Linked DNA regions of Homo sapiens: region 2 is linked to region 1. The links come from fine-mapping of genetic effects on gene expression. Tissue or cell type: whole blood. Region 1 holds a variant in brackets; the other region holds the start of a gene. All regions are shown on one strand. Distances are from middle to middle.

What was found. PIP is the estimated chance that this variant, and not a neighbour inherited with it, causes the effect.
Region 2: it holds the start of FGGY, and the variant in region 1 is fine-mapped to the expression of FGGY in whole blood (TOPMed, PIP above 0.99). The same link has a PIP of 0.9 or more in adrenal gland, amygdala, blood mononuclear cells, esophagus mucosa, lung and nasal epithelium.

What each region holds. Positions count from the first base shown.
Region 1 is chr1:59,759,097-59,767,202 of GRCh38, forward strand. FGGY (FGGY carbohydrate kinase domain containing) reads left to right here. Exons shown (of 16, transcript NM_018291.5): 16 at 3,407-3,634. The coding sequence ends at 3,488. Among named protein-coding and RNA genes, the nearest start is that of MIR4711, 30 kb to the left of the region's middle. RefSeq lists an enhancer at 3,657-3,706. The variant T/TTC (reference allele first, on the strand shown) is at 3,542.
Region 2 is chr1:59,293,759-59,301,864 of GRCh38, forward strand. FGGY (FGGY carbohydrate kinase domain containing) reads left to right here and starts at 3,336. Exons shown (of 16, transcript NM_018291.5): 1 at 3,336-3,392. FGGY-DT (FGGY divergent transcript) reads right to left here and starts at 2,792. Exons shown (of 2, transcript XR_001738089.2): 1 at 2,611-2,792; 2 at 1-2,006. RefSeq lists silencers at 2,738-3,277, 3,288-3,377 and an enhancer at 4,795-5,994.

The DNA of each region.
Region 1 (8,106 bases):
AAGTGCTTTTATAATTTTAGGGAAGTATTCGAGGTTAAGACCTAAAAGCAAATTCCACTTAACATGATGAACAGGCAAATGTGCAGATCCCACTGAAGCAGGATCAGTATTTAACAGAATTGGAAATGTTCATGGAAAAGCAATCCACTTTCTTTTCATTTCCTTTAACTCCACATAGAGTCAGGCTGCTAACCCTCCGAATATAAACCCTTCTCTAAAGGCCAGGGTGGAAGGTACAGGCATTGCGTAGGGGAGCTCCATGCAGGAAGGTGGAGAGATCTGAGTTCCCACTGGCAGTAGGAGCTATGGGCTGCTGTCCCTGTTTCTGTTCCCTGGAGGCAGCTGGAGCATCCCTCTTTTTGTGAAATTAGAAAGATTGTCTTTCTCCATCTCTTCCCTGACCCTCCCAAGACTTTTCAGGGAAGTTTTTAAGTTTTTTCCGTAAACCCCACGTGTTCAGAGAGTCCTCCGCTGCTTGCTGGGAGCTGGCAGCTGGCAGCTGTTCTCTGCGAAGGAGGCGGCACACACGGTGCTTTAGCACCATCTGCAGGCAACCCAGAGATTTGCAAGGAGACAGGAGAAGCCAGTTTCCTTCTGAGCCAACCTCATCTCATTGCCTAATAGATCACACTGTTAACGATGTGGGACGACATTTACTTAGGCCTCTGCCACACAGAAGCAGGGACTGAGTTGAGGCACATTTTGAAGAGAGGGGATTCAGCTGATTTTAAAATTCACAGTCACGGAGAGTGTAATTTAGTGACTATAGTTTAATAATAAATGTTTAGGATGACCCCAAATTGCATTATTATGTTCAGTCCAAATTTATATGTGGCTCTGGAAGAGTCACTTAAATGTGCTTTGAGAAATTTGGTGCATTGAAAGACACTATCAACAGAGTAAAAAGGCAACTCACAGAATGGGAGAAAACATTTGCTTATCATACATCCAGTAAGGGATTGATATCCAGAATATATAAATGTATAAAGAACTCCTAAAACTCAACAACAACAAAAAAGCAAAAACAACCCAATTCAAAAGTGGGCAAAGGACTTGAATGAATATTTCCCCAAAGAAGATTTATAAATGACCAGTAAGCACGTGATAGGGTATTCAACAGCACTATTAGGAAAATCAAAACTACCGTGAGGTACCACCTCACACATTAGGATGCTACTATTTTAAAACAGAAAACAACAAATGTTGGCAAGGATGTGGAGAAATTGGAAGCTCTGTGCATAGTTGGTGAGAATGTAACATAGTATCGCTGCTGCAGAAAACACTATGGCCATTCTTCAAGAAATTAAGAATAGAATTAACATGTGATTCAGGAATTGTATTTCTGAGTATATACCCAAAAGAACTGAAAGTAGGGTATGGAAGAGATATTTCTACATTCATGTTCACAGCAACATTATTCATGATAGCGAAAATCATGAGAGCAACCTAAGTGTTCATTAGTAGATGAACATATAAATGAAGAATGATATGTGCATACAATGGAGTATTATTCAGCCTTAGAAAGAAGCAATTTCTGACATGCCACACATCAGTGAACCTTGAGGATATTATTCTAAGTGAAATAAGATAACCACAAAAAGACAAATACTGCATGATTCCACCTATGTAAAGAATAAGGCCAGTGCACAAAGTTGTGGCAAAGTTGTCAGTATTAACATTGTAAATCAAGTGTGTGTGAAGGGGTGCTCACCTTAGCTCCCTTCTAGATATTTTGAGATTCTAAAGTCAAGAAATCTATCTCATGTAGTGAAAGAATTCCTTACCGTTATATTGTCACAGAGCATCATTAGTAGGAGCAAATTGTTCCTAAAATAATTCTACAACTAATAAATTTGGATGCTCATAGAGTAGGTCTTAGTAGTACCTACATATAGCTATATTGATGATATTAAAATATTAATTATCTAAAATTTAGTAACTAGCATTTATATCACTTATTATGAGTCAGGTACTGTTCTAAATGCTTTTCATTTATTTCCACATTTAATCTACAACAGCTCTGCTGAAGTAGATCCCATAATTATCCCCATTTACAGATGGAGAAATTTAGGCAGAAATAGTTTAAGTAACATATCCAAAGTCACACAGCTAATGTTAGGCCACATTAAGATTCCAACCCAGGCTTTGGAGTTCGCCTTTTAACCCTGTGCTTGGCCCCGTCACAACTCCTACGTTACCAGAATGCTTACAGTCTAATAAATATTGGGTAGGGGACTCCTACTAACATAGCTATGTGTGACAAGTAGAAGTCCCTGTGTGTATCCAAGGTTACTCTTACAACCTCTCTCTGCCAATGCACAACTTTGCACCAAAATTTCATCATGAGGACTCCTTTTCAGAGCACCCCAGAATTGAGCAAGACATGCTAAACTGGCTTCTTCACCCCCTCACCCCATGTCAGCTTCCCAACCAAGAGGAGTAAGGACAAAGTTGCAAGGCTGCAAGTATAATTTGTCTCGGTTCCTATTATTCCTTTCAGGATTATGATGCCAGAGCAGCTTCAGCTGTTCTGCTGTCTGATTCATGGCCAATACCAGTTCTAACAGGTCTAACCCAAAGAGTCAGCCAGATAGGACAGGGAGAGCAACGGCCACTGTGAGATGTCTGGAAGGCGAGCACAGCTCTAGAAAAGGCATTAGCTACATTTCCATGGGGTTTTGCTCCTGGATAAAGCAGGTCACAAGGGAAACCTAGATGTGGAATCTGCAAAAGGGCAATTAAAATGTTCAGTCTTTGTCCTTGGTCAGGCTGTGATTTTAGGCCAGTCATCAAACCTGGGGCTAGTTATATAGGAAATACTTATTGAAGCTGGCAATGTGAAAGAGTCTCCATTAAGTCCGGCCTTTTTGTATATACAGTAGAAGCTTTGAAGTCAGACAGACATGAGTTTGAATTCCAGCTCTGCCAGTTTTTATCTATACTACTTTGTATATGCCTCTCATTTAGGAATTTTTTTTTTTTTTTTTTTGATGGAGTCTGGCTCTTTCACCCAGGCTGGAGCGAAGTGGTGCAACTCAACCACTTCACAGTGAACGGGGGACGGTTCACTGCAACCTCCGCCCCCCGGGTTCAAGCAATTCTCCTGCCTCAGCCTCCTGAGTAGCTGGGATTACAGGCGTCCACCACCATGTCTGGCTAATTTTTGTATTTTTAAGAGATGGGGTTTAAATGTTCTTATTTCTAAATTGGAGATAATAAAACTTCATCCAGGTCACATATAATAGGTCTGAAACATGCTAATTCATTGCCCAGGATGCTGTAAGCATTCAGAATCTAGGTGTCAGCATCACCACCACACATATATTTCCATTCTTCTAAATGTACAGGGAAGCCCTGTGGCAGTTTTGTCTTGAGATCATTCAACATATTTATATTTCTCCCACAGATACTATGATAAGAAATACCAAGTATTCCTGAAGCTGGTTGAACACCAGAAGGAGTATTTGGCGATCATGAATGATGACTGAACAGGGCTTGCAGGTGCTGATGCCAGAAGCTTCTGTGCCATTGCATTAAAGAC[T/TTC]TGTCATTTGATCCATGTTCAAGACCCTTGAGGTATTGTTTCATCATTTCTGTATTGTCTTTCAATAAAGAAAACAAACATGTGCAACCAGAATTAGAGTCTTCATTTCAAAATACCGCTATTATTTAGTTTCAGTTTCCATACAGTCTCCATTATAGTAACAGAAGTTTCACATAGGGTCATAGGATCTCACATGAGACTAGACCTTGGGGGCTATTCAATCCAGGGAAGGCCTGTACTTTTTTTTTTTTTTTTTTGAGACGGAGTCTCGCTCTATCGCCCAGGCTGGAGTTCAGTGGAGCGATCTCGGCTCACTGCAAACCCCGCCTCCCAGGTTCACACCATTCTCCTGCCTCAGCCTCCTGAGTAGCTGGGACTACAGGCGCCCGCCACCGCGCCTGGCTAATTTTTTGTATTTTTAGTAGAGACAGGGTTTCACCATGTTAGCCAGGATGGTCTCGATCTCCTGACCTCGTGATCTTTCCGCCTCGGCCTCCCAAAGTGCTGAGATTACAGGCATGAGCCACTGCGCCCGGCCAGGCCTGTACTTTTTAATCAATTAAATGTCAGCTATTAAATGAAAAACTTACATTACTTTAGGTAGGACATCTAATGCATAGTCGATGTCTTTTATGGCATTTTCCCCTCCTGTGCAGGATCTAGTCTAGGGTCAGATACCACATTTATTTGCAGAATTGTAATTTCACAATCATCATATTAAAGACAGGTATAGGCAGGAATCATCGATGGATCCAGGAGGGAATTTTGAAGAATAACAGGATATATGCATAATCTTAAAATATCTCTTCAGAATTTGCTTATTAGTTACAAGAGGAAAAAGAACGTTAAGTATACAGGGAAGAAATAGGACAACATCTTGATTAGGTGATCCAAATCAACTTCAGATGGGCAAATGGACATTGTGTGCCTCCAGATATGAGAAAAGAAAGAGCATTTTAATGCAGAGCCTGAATCTAATCAGAAGGAAACATCAGACAAACGCAACATGGGAAGCATTTTATTTTTTAATGGACTATATTTTTCAAAAATATCTATGTCATACTGACAAAGAAAGGCTGTGGGAAGTTTCCAGATTAAAGGAAACTGAAGAAACCTGATGGCTAAAAGCTTTTGATGTAGACAAGCACTGGGAAAACTAGCTGTTTTAGTTGATACCACAGCAGACACACAAACGCACACAGACATACACATACATATACATACATAAATATGTCAACACCCACACATAATTTCAGACCCAAGAGTAACTGCTAACGTTGATTTGAGAGCTGTCATAGCTCAAATGAGTGTGGGTAGAGGACATGCTAAGACTTCAGCAAAAGACAGCAGGTAGAGAAGAAAAAGCCAATATAATTCAGTAAATAAACATCCTCTGGAGTACTTTGTGCCACATGTTGTGGTAAGCACTGGTCTACAGGAATAAATAAGACATGGCCCCTGCCTTCAGGAACCTCCCTGTTTAATGAGAGACATAGACAAATAGATTGATGACAGTACATTATGAGAAATGCTACAATTACAAAAAAAAAAGTACCTGCTGCATGGAGCCCATCAGTCAGAAAAGGAGGAAGGAGAAGGTGGGATGAAAAACAATATGGTGTAACAGCTATGAGCCCTGGCCTGGGATCCTAGGCCTGGTCTTACCTCTTACTAGATGGGTGACTTGGAGAAAGGTCCTTAATCTTCCTAAGTCTCAGTTTCCTCATTTTGAAATGAATAGGTATTGAATATGAATATGTTTTTTTTGTTGTTGTTGTTGTTGGTTTTTTTGTTTTTGTTTTTGTTTTTGTTTTTTTGAGACGAAGTCTTGCTCTCGCCCAGGTTGGAGTGCAGTGGCTTGATCTCTGCTCACTGCAAGCTCCACCTTCCAGGTTCACGCCATTCTCCTGCCTCAGCCTCCCGAGTAGCTGGGACTACAGGCACCCGCCACCACGCCCAGCTAATTTTTTGTATTTTTAGTAGAGACGGGGGTTTCACCATGTTAGCCAGGATGGTCTCGATCTCCTGACCTCGTGATCCGCCCGCCTCGGCCTCCCAAAGTGCTGGGATTACAGGCGTGAGCCACCGCACCTGGCCTGAATATGTTAATAGTACCTACTTTACAGGATTATAATGAGGACTAAAGGAGATAATGCATATAAAGCACTCGGCTCAATTGCATGGTCCATGCCTGTGTTATTACAGGGCTCTGCTCCTAGAAGATGCTCAAAATAGTAACTGTAGTAAGCATGGAGAAGGGTGAGCACCCCAGTTATGAAGGTCAGCTCTGCAATAGCATTCTACAGTATCCAAAGGATATAGGGACCTTAGGCATAGCCCCGAGTGAAGGTGGGTGTGCGTGTCTGATCTAGCTGGCCTAAAAGCAGAAGGAAGCCCAGTGCATTCATAGATCCTAGCCAGAGGTTGCACTAGGGATAAAGGAGGATTGGGGATCACTACAGAAGAGGAGTCGGGTATTGCAGGATCTAAGCAAGATGTCAGGTCTATGGTCAAACAGGCTTCAGCTGCAAAAGCTGATTATCACTCACTGAGAAACGGGCAGGCCTGGACCTGCTCACACAAAACCCTGGTGAATGCGGTGGTTGTCTGTGGATACAAAAGGCAGACATAAAAGCATGAATAATTACCAACTATCTGCCAAGTCCTTGTTGTATGTCCTCTCCAATCCTCCTACAGCACTGTGAGGTAGGCAGCATTATCTCCACCTTATAGTTGAGAAAGTTGAGTTTCAGAAAAGACATAGTTGAGAAAATTGAGTTTCAGAAAAGATAGACACTTTGCCCAGAGTCACCAGATGGTAGCAGAGATAGGATTCAAATCCAGATCTGCCTGGATGCAAAACTTTAGGTATCACCCCACTGTAACAGCTGGAGAGGAATCCTGCCCACCACCTGCTCTTTAGTTGCAGTGCTCATGTTGTTGATTGCCAAGCTCCGGGTGCTGGCCATTCTTTCAAGCAAACTCGTATCCAAACCAAACCTGACCTGAGTTTTCACTGCTTTATAGAGAAAGGAAAACACACAGAAATTAGGCAAAAACACATGGCAACACTAGGACACCTTTGGCATCTCAACAGTGAGGAGCAGCTTGATAGAAAGGAGAAGGGCTGAAAGACCTTGGGCAACATAGCTAACCTGTCTAAGCCTCAGTCTTTCCCTCTGTGGTGGGATCATTCTGCTACCTACCTCCTAGGGTTGGTGGTAAGGATTCAGTGAAAGAACTGTGGATAAAGCCCTTAGCACAATGCCTTTCAGACAATAGGCACTCTACAAATATTGTTTCTCCATGGTTCTCTCTGCCTCCTAGCTAGGAGGTTAATCCCTAAGAAAATCATTCTGGTTCCTACTATAAAGCCACCGTGTTAGGAAAAAATATAAATGTCTATATATAATTCTATTAGAAACCACGTGTGGCTCAGTAATAAAAATTTTAATCACTCCAATACACACCTCCTTGCACTGAGAAAGGTGGTTTTATTTAATACATGCATGTAAAGTATATTTAGCTTTGATGAATAAGAATTGCAGTGTGGCCAGAGTGGTTTGTGAGATTTTTGTTTTGTTGCCTACTGAAAGCTTTTCTTTCAAGTTAAAGCCAGACTTGCTTAGCAAATCATTTTGCCAAGGAACGCATTACAGGTTTTAAATTTTGACCAAAAATACTTCCCATATGCGAAGAACATAAATGTGGCTTTCAAAAGAGCCAAAGAGAACAAAAGCTGGGGGAGGTGAGGAAGAAAAGACAAGAATGACAGAATGGAGTGGCATGTTGCAGAGCTACAGTAAACTACAGGACCCGATGCCACAGTGAGCTGGAGTCCTAGTGAGGCATCCAGAAGGGACGCCCTCTCTTGTGAAGATCCAGACTGGGCATTTGATCTTTATATTCAGAGCATAATCTGTGTTGTTGCCAGTTGCACTGGGGAGTATAAGTTCCAAGAGGAGCAGTAAAAATATCGTAAGGCAACCCTGGAAACGCCCAGCTTTAAGAATGCACCAAATCAGCATGTGAGTTAGCAAGCTAGAATGCTTAGGTTTTAATATCAACATGATCTGCTATTTCTCCCAGGCCTGAGGATAATCACGTTCTTTAGATTTACTTACCTGCTTTTTTCTTCCTCCCCCCGGCCACCGGCCTGTGAGCTCTTGGAGGGCTCAGAGTATCTTATAGCCTGTTCTCTGTACCCAAACAGTTCTTGGCACGTAATGGGTATTCCATAAGTGAATAAATACACAAACACAAGATGTTTTTCTGAAAAAAAAAAAAAAAAAAAAAAAACACTGGTAGAACTAAAAAAACTCACTTTCAGGTCAATCTTCTGTACGTGTTAATATGCCTTAATTTAAGCAACTGTCAAATGCTTTAAAATGTGTTTTGGTCACTAAGGATTTTTAAAAATCATGCCTTATACCTAACAACTTGCTTTTTTAGTTTTTTATTGCACATAATACACACATGCATAACCACACAACTTCATTTTGGGTTGTAGCTCAAGCTGAGAACCTTTTGCAAATTTTCCATGTTGTTACAGACTATTTCCTGTA
Region 2 (8,106 bases), 470 kb before region 1:
CTATGCACTTTTGTGATGGAACATCAGAATACAATAAATTAGTGATACAGAAGTGCTGGGAAGTGAAGGGTGTGTCCCTTTAAATGATAGGGAAGGGGGCAGGGACATGCGTATGTGTGCCCAAGGACCTAGGTGAGGACAGGCATAATTTTGTTTTCCTGCCCAAATATTGCATTTCCCAAGACAACCCTGGCCTGCCACACCCCCATCCTGTGCTATAAAAACCATGAGACCCTAGCAGGTAGACAAACAGGCGGCTGGACGTCGAGAGGAGCACATCAGCGGAGGAACACGCGGGCAGCTGGACGTTGAGAGAACACACTTACGCCAGCAGGCCACCAACTGGCAGAATGACATGGAGTTTGGCTGGGGCAGTGGGAGGAGAGCCTGGGCCGCCAAGCGGCCCGACACCAGGGGAAAACCATCTCCCTTTTGGCTCCTCCACCTGCTGAGAGCTACTTTCACTCCATAAAACCTTGCAATCATTCTCCAAGCCCACGTGTGATCCAATTCTTCTGCTACACCAAGGCAAGAACCCCGAGATACAGAAAGCCCTCTGTCCTTGCAATAAGGCAGGGGTTTAATTGAGCTGGCTAACACAAGCCACCCACGGACGGCTAAACTAAAAGAGCACCCTGCTACATGTGCCCACTGGGGCTTTGGCTGTAAACAGTCACCCCTAGACACTGCCGTGGGGTCAGATCTCCACAGCCTACCTGTCTGTATGCTTCCCTAGAGGTTTGTGCAGTGGGGACTGAAGAAGTGAGTCACACCCACATCGCACGCCCTGTGAAGGGGACAAGGGAACTTTTCCCATTTCATTAGGGGTTGGCAAACTAAGGCTCATGGGCCACATTGTCCATTGCCTGCTTGTGTAAGTAAAGTTTTATTGAAACATAGTCATACCTACTCATTTACTATTGTCTATGGCTGCTTTTACATTACAAAGTTGAGTAGTTGCAACAGAGACTGTATTGCTCACAAAGTCTAAAATATTTACTATCGGTCCTTTACAGAAAAAGTGTCACTCCCTGGAATAAATGAATCAAATGGAAGTAAATGGAAAAAAAAAAAAGGATTCATTCATTCGTAATAGGCAGTGTATCATAACTGAAAAAGATAGTGAAAATTGGTTTCAGACAAACCCAGGTAAGAATCTCACCTTCGCCACTTGGCTGGAAAACTCTGAACAAATTATTTTTACTCTTTGGGCCTGTTTCTGCATCTATCACCTTATAAGGTTGCTGTCTGAGAATTCTACTATACAATGTAATGTATCTGTTAGAGTGTAATATATCTGTTATTAGGTTTGACCTCATACAATAGAAACACAAAATAAAAGTGTCTTACACAGGACAGCAGTTTTTTTCTTTCATGTGGAGGTCTGGAGGGCAGTGGGTATTGATTGGTTCAGTGCCTCCTGCATTAGGAATCCACGCTTCTTTCACTTTGTTGCTTTGCTGTGTGTGGGTTTCATTCCTGAGGTCCTTTCATGGTTCAACACGGCTGCTGGAGCAAATAAAAAATCAAATACACAAAAGCCCAGAGAAAGAGCCATCCACAGAGGCCAGGCAACAAATCCACTTATTCAAGTCTAGCCAAGATGAGACCCCCTTGCCACAGTGCATGAAACCAGCATATTCCACTTATTCCATTCTTGGGGTACGTTGAAACAGATCTGGAAGCAATGTCTTCTGTGTATTAAGCATCTAACACTTTACAAAGCATTTTCATATGTCTTACCACATTTGTTCTTCATAATGTTCTGAAAAGGTAAGATGAATACATCTTATTATTCCTATTGAACACTTGATTCACACAGCTGCTAAGTAACAGATTCCAACGAGTCTATAGCTAGGTCTTTGGGTATGTTGCTGGTAATGAAAAGGTGAACAATCATGGTGCAGAAGAAAGAAAATGAGCCAAACCAGGATCCCTGGTAGAGTTGTAGTGCAAAGACTGGGGTTAATTGTGTGGCCTCAGCCTCACTGGGCTGTTCTCCTCACCTGTAAGACCAAGATAAGAGCACTTATTTACTTCGGGGTTGTTGTGAAGATAGCAGACAATCTTAGTGCACCTGCCACTTAAGATCCGTTCAGTGAAATTATTACCTTTCACAGGTGTGTCTTTGGAAAATCACTTCCCTTTCCTGGATCTCAGTTTTCTTTTCTAGGAAAACAACATGTTTGGACTCAGCGACTGCTAAACTGTCTCCCAAACCTCGAACTCCCTCAGCCTGGGATCCTGCCTTTTATGAAAATAGTTCGGATTGGAGCTCAGGTTGGAATTCTCGCTTTAGTTGCTTGCTAGCTGTGTGTCCCAGTAAAAGCTAAAAATTTCGGATTCCCCACATCTGTAGAATAGGGATACATAACATGCAGCTTATTAGAAAGGGAAGGCATGTGAGAATTAAATTAGGTCCGTGTCCAGTACCCACTAAATTGTAAAAACTTCTCAAAGGCAGGGACCCATCTGTTTTGTAGATTTACAGAATGTCATACGTTGAAGTACGGGGGTTCGCCACGGGATTAGAAAATTTCTGTAGAGTAAGGAACAAGACACAAGGTAAGCATTCAAGAATTGTAACCATGCAATATTCTTATTTCTTACAGTCGCCTACAACAGTCCTGGTGTTTAGTAAACGGTCTGACACACACACCCATCAGGGGCTGCGGAGAGTCCGCCTGGGTAAGCTCCGCAAGGTGAGTCCCCAGAGCCGGGAACTCGCAGCCTGAGCAGACGCAGCGTAGCCGATCTTGGGTCCGCGCTCCTCCCGCCTTGCCCAGCCCTGCCCGCGGTTGGCTAGGCCCCAGGGAACGCTGCAGCCGCGGGGTGGGCAGGCGACGGCCAATCCCACGCCCGGTTCAAAGGGCCAATCAGGCCGCGCTTTACAGGGGCCGCGCTTTACAGGGGCCGCGCTTTACAGGGGCCGCGCTTTACAGGGGCCGCGCTTTACAGGGGCCGCGCTTTACAGGGGCCGCGCTTTACAGGGGCCGCGCTTTACAGGGGCCGCGCCGGCGGGGGCGGGATCGCGCGCAAGGCGGGGCTGTAGCCGCCCCGGGACCGCCCTGCTCAGGCGCCGTGGGGTTCGGCGCGGCTACGTGCAGAATCCGTCTAGCTAAAATGTAATTTCAGATTGGACAAGTACTGTAAGTGACCCTCCTCTCAGTCCCACGTGGGCGCTGGGGGCTTTTGCTGGTGCGCAGGCTCTTAGCGCGCACGCCCAGAAAGAGGCTTCTCCAACCCGGCCCGGCCCTTCCTTCCCCTTTCCCGCAGTCGTTGCCTCCTCCTCCCCTGCCTCCTCCTCCCCTTCCTCCTCCTGGCCGCTTAGTCTCACACCCGCCGGGCCGTTGTTCCCGAGACGTTGTTGAGTCCCCTGTGTCCTCTTCTGGGTGAGGCGTCCGGCCACTTAAGGGAAGGGAAGGGAAGGGTCGGCCTTGACTGCATCCCCAAGGCTGCCTATTAGGTGTCTGGAACCCGTGCTGCTTCCTCTCCGATCAGTGCCCACTTATCTGTATTCAGTACTCTTTCTCTCCTCCCCTTACCCTTGTAGGACATTTTCCTGGCATTTGAGGAGCCTTTAATTCACGTCTGGCTACCGAAGGCATTTTTAGGCTAGTGTTGCTTGTAGATTTAAACGCTTCCAGCACTTGTGATAATGTTTGAGGCACAGCTGAGTTTAGATGAGATAATGCTGTTTGGTTACAGTTATCCTGAGTAGAAAGGCCTAGGGATATCTTTTCATTTTTAGCCGTTTCCTTTTTATTTAAAGATTGACAAGGGGCCGGGCGCGGTGGCTCACGCCTGTAATCCCAGCACTTTGGGAGGCCAAGGCGGGTGGATCACGAGGTCAGGAGATCGAGACCATCCAGGCTAACACGGTGAAACCCCCGTCTCTACTAAAAATACAAAAAATTAGCCGGGCGTGGTGGCGGGCGCCTGCAGTCCCAGCTTCTCGGGAGGCTGAGGCAGGAGAATAGCGTGAACCCAGGAGGCGGAGCTTGCAGTGAGCTGAGATCGTGCCACTGCACTCCAGCCTGGGGGACAGAGCGTCTCAGAAAAAAAAAAAAAAAATTGACAAGGTGCAAAATGGTGAATTTCCCTCATCATGGGCTGTTTTCCACTAAAGCACTTCTGTGTCTTAACACAAATTTCTTCCCCGAAGAGTCAGTCATGACATGACCAAAGTCTGAAAAGCAGTTAATCCTTAGGTTAAATTTTAAAGTATGAGACCAGGAGGGGTGAGGTGCTTATTCTTTTGACTTGTAAATCAGAATGAAAGAAGGGAAAGTCTTTTATTTTGTGGCTGTTATTTAAATGGTAGAGTTTTGCTTTGTATAGTTTTTGCTTGCTTTTCCTCTTTTTTTTCTATGATCCACCACGTGTATGTCCTGATTTTTTTCCTTTTTAACTTGCTTGCTGGATTTTCCAGCCAGATGACTGCCGCTTGGTCTTCTGGGAGTCTCCTGTTAATGGGGCCCTCATGCTTGGCTCTTGACCTGATGGCCACTGGCCTGGCTCTTGGAGGACCTCCTAGTGGGAGGCCCAGAGCACTGTTATTAAGGATGATTGGGGGAACAGATCAGAGGGGGTCAGCTGGGCCTGGAGATCAATTTTGAGGGGGAGGGAGGTTGGGAGCCTGCCTGGCTGGATTTGGAAGTCAAAACATGTGTGCTGGGAGAAGGGCATAACCCCAGAGGGTGGAGAGCCATGTCTTTCTGGATAAAATTAATAAGTTTACTGGGAGGAGGCTGGGCCTTCCAGGCTGTGTTAGTTTTTGTTGTGGGCCTTGGCTTTTCCTGGAATTTGGTTCCCTTTCCCTAACCTTTCACTTATTAGTTTAAATAGTTCCCTTTACCTAACCTTTCACTTATTGATTTAAATAGTTTAAATCACAGTCAATTACCAGCTGGTTTTTAAAATAATTTGAGGTAATGAATCTTGCCCTTAATCTCCTAGCCAGAGTGGAACCCCCTACCTCCACCCCCAGGGGGATTTGAAATGATTATTTTACCAGAACGTGCTACAGAGATCACTTACCTTCTCACCCGCCCACCTTTTTATAATGGAGGGACATAGAATCAACCCAGGTGGTGTCAGAGATCATCCAAATCAGTTCTTCATGTATTCATTTGTTCACTCATCTTGTCCACATACTTTGGGCCCAGAACTGTGGTAGTCTCTGGGAAAGTGCAGATGAGTAAGACTTGGTCTCTGCTTTCAAGCTTTCATCCAGTTTGCTTCAATCCACTTTGATGAGGGAGATTATGTGATAGTGAGATGAGTACATTGAAAAGGTATGCCGAAGACTCCCAGGAGTTGAGAGAAGGGCAAATGGCTCAACATGGGGAAGCCATTTGGGGAGGACTTCCCAGAAGGGAATACTGGAGCCGAGTTCCAAAGCCTAAGTATGAGTGGGCTGGAGAAAGAGCGAGGGATTATATGAACCGGGAACAGCATGTGCAGAACTACACAAGCATGGCACATGGTTGATTAGGATGGCTGTGCAGGAAAGGATAAGTTGGAAAAAATCACCTGACAGGAGGCTGGGGAGGGTGAAGGCCAGGTCAGGAAGGGTCTGGTGAATCATCTTAGGGGAGTTTGAAATATATCTCCAGGGCAAACAGTGATACATACTCTCAGGTTTATGTTATAGAAAATTAATTCTGGCTGCAGTTTGGAGAATGAATTGGATTGGCGAAGCCCGGAGAGAGGTAATTGTAGTAATATAGGTGAGAGACGTGTTAGGGTAATAGTTATGGGAGTGGAGAGAGATTAGGAAAATAGAATGGTTAGGAATGTTATAAAGGTTCAGTGCCACAAAAGAAATAGCACTTGAATATCAAATTTTCTTTTTTCTTCTCAGCAAGGCCATTTACTTCTATAGAAGGGTGCGCCCTCACAGATGGAGCAATGGTGAGCGCACACCTGGACAAGGGTGGGGGGGCGGGTCTTATGCCTGACGCACGTGGCCCCTGTTGCTGTGTCGTTCCCCTATTGGCTAGGGTTAGACTGCACAGGCTAAACTAATTCCAATTGGCTAATTTAAAGAGAGTGACGATGTGAGTGGTTTGGCGGGAAAAATGGTTATGGCAGAGCAGGAAATCGGAATGAGTCAGGGTGGAGAATGAGCAGGTAATCGGAATGAGTCAGTGAGTCTGGGTGGAGCAGGTGATCGAAAAAGCTTGCTTTATGAGGACGTTAAATTTAAAAGTAGAAAAGAATTGAACATACTGACATATTGATTCTTTGAAGAGAAATTTAGAGCTCATATCTAATGGAAATTAATTACTGACTGAATGTAGGGATAAGAAGGAATGTAGTCATCAGTAGGTGTTCTTGAGTGGGCTATTTTGTAGCAGCTTTAGTGAGGAATAACTGACATCCAGTAAACTACGTATTGAGAGTGTCTAATTGGAGAAGTTTTGTTATATGCATATATCTATGAAAACCATCATGACCATCAAAAGAACATACCTAATAACCCCAAAGATTGCTTGTGCCCTTTTTAATTCCTCTTTGTATACCCCCTAAGGTAAAGTATGTATTCAATCTTTCGTCCATTTTAAAAAATGAGCCTTTTATTTTCTTTTTATTGAGCTTTGAGAATTCTTTATTCTTATCATAAGTTCTTTATCACGTGTAACTTGCAGATATTTTCTTATTTTGATGCTTGTCTCAACAGTGTCTTTTGAAAGCAGAGTTCTTAATTTTGATGAAGTCTAATTTATAATTTGGTTAAATAAATGTTACCAATCTGAATTATAATGGATCATGCTTTTTGTGTTTTATCTAAGATATCTTTGCTTAACCTAAGGTCTCAAATATTCTTCCTATTTTTAAAAGAAGTTTTGTCATTTTTGGTTTTATATTAAATCTGTGATCATTTTAAGGTAATTTTTGTATAGGACATGAAATATGGAATCAAGTTTTTTTTTTGCATATGGCTATCCAGTTCCAGCACTGTTTGCTGAAAAGCCTATCTTCATTGAATTGCCTTTGCACCTTTGTTCAAAAATCAATTTACCATGTATACATTGGCCCAATTTTGTGTTTTATTTTGTTCAGTTGATCTCTTGTCTATTTTAATGCGAACACCACATAGTCTTATAAATACAGCTTTGTAATAAGTACTGAAATCAGGTAGTATAAGTCCTTTAATTTTGTTCTTTTTAAAATTTGTTTTGATTATTCTAGGTTCTATTTCCATATGAATTTTATAATCACTTTGTCCATTTCAAAATAAGGCCTATTTAGATTTTAACTGGAATTGTATTGAATGTATACATTAATTTGGGGGGAGAATTGACATTTGAAATACCAAGTCTTCTGACCCGTGGACACAGTATATCTGTTCATTTATTTAAGTCTTCCTTATTTCTCTAGGCAATGTTTTGTAGCTCTCAATATGTAGGTCTTACACATCTTTGTTGGATTATCTGTAGGTATTTCCTATTTTTTGATGATATTGTAAATGATATTAAAATTTTATGTATTTTAAAAATTTATTTTCCAGTTGTTTTCTTGTTACTGGTATATTGATTGTGTATCCTGAAATCTTGCTCATGTGCTTATTATTTCTAAGAGCATTTTTGTAGATGCCATCAGATTTTCTATTTAGGTGATCCTGTCATCTGTAAATAAAGATAGTTTTACTTCCTTTCCGATGAGATTGCCTTTTATTTTTCTTGCTGTATTCCACTAGCCAGAACCATTGCTTTGCATAGAACTGATGAGAGCTGACATCTTGCCTTCTTCCTGATCTGAGGGAGATGCATTCATTTTTTCATTATTAAGTATGATGCATGATGCTAGTTGTATATCTTTTGTAGATATGCTTTATTAGGTTTAGGAAGTTTCATTGTATTCCTACTTTACTGAGAATTTTTTTAAAGGAATAATGGAAGTTGTAATTTTGTTGTTTTTCCTATAACTGTTGTGATCATTCTTTTTTTTTTTTTTTTTTTTTTTTGAGATGGAGTTTCGCTCTTGTTGCCCAGGCTGGAGTGAAGTGGCGTGATCTCGGCTCACTGCAACCTCCACCTCCCAGGTTCAAGCGATTCTCCTGCCTCAGCTTCCCGAGCAGCTGGGATTACAGGCACGCAC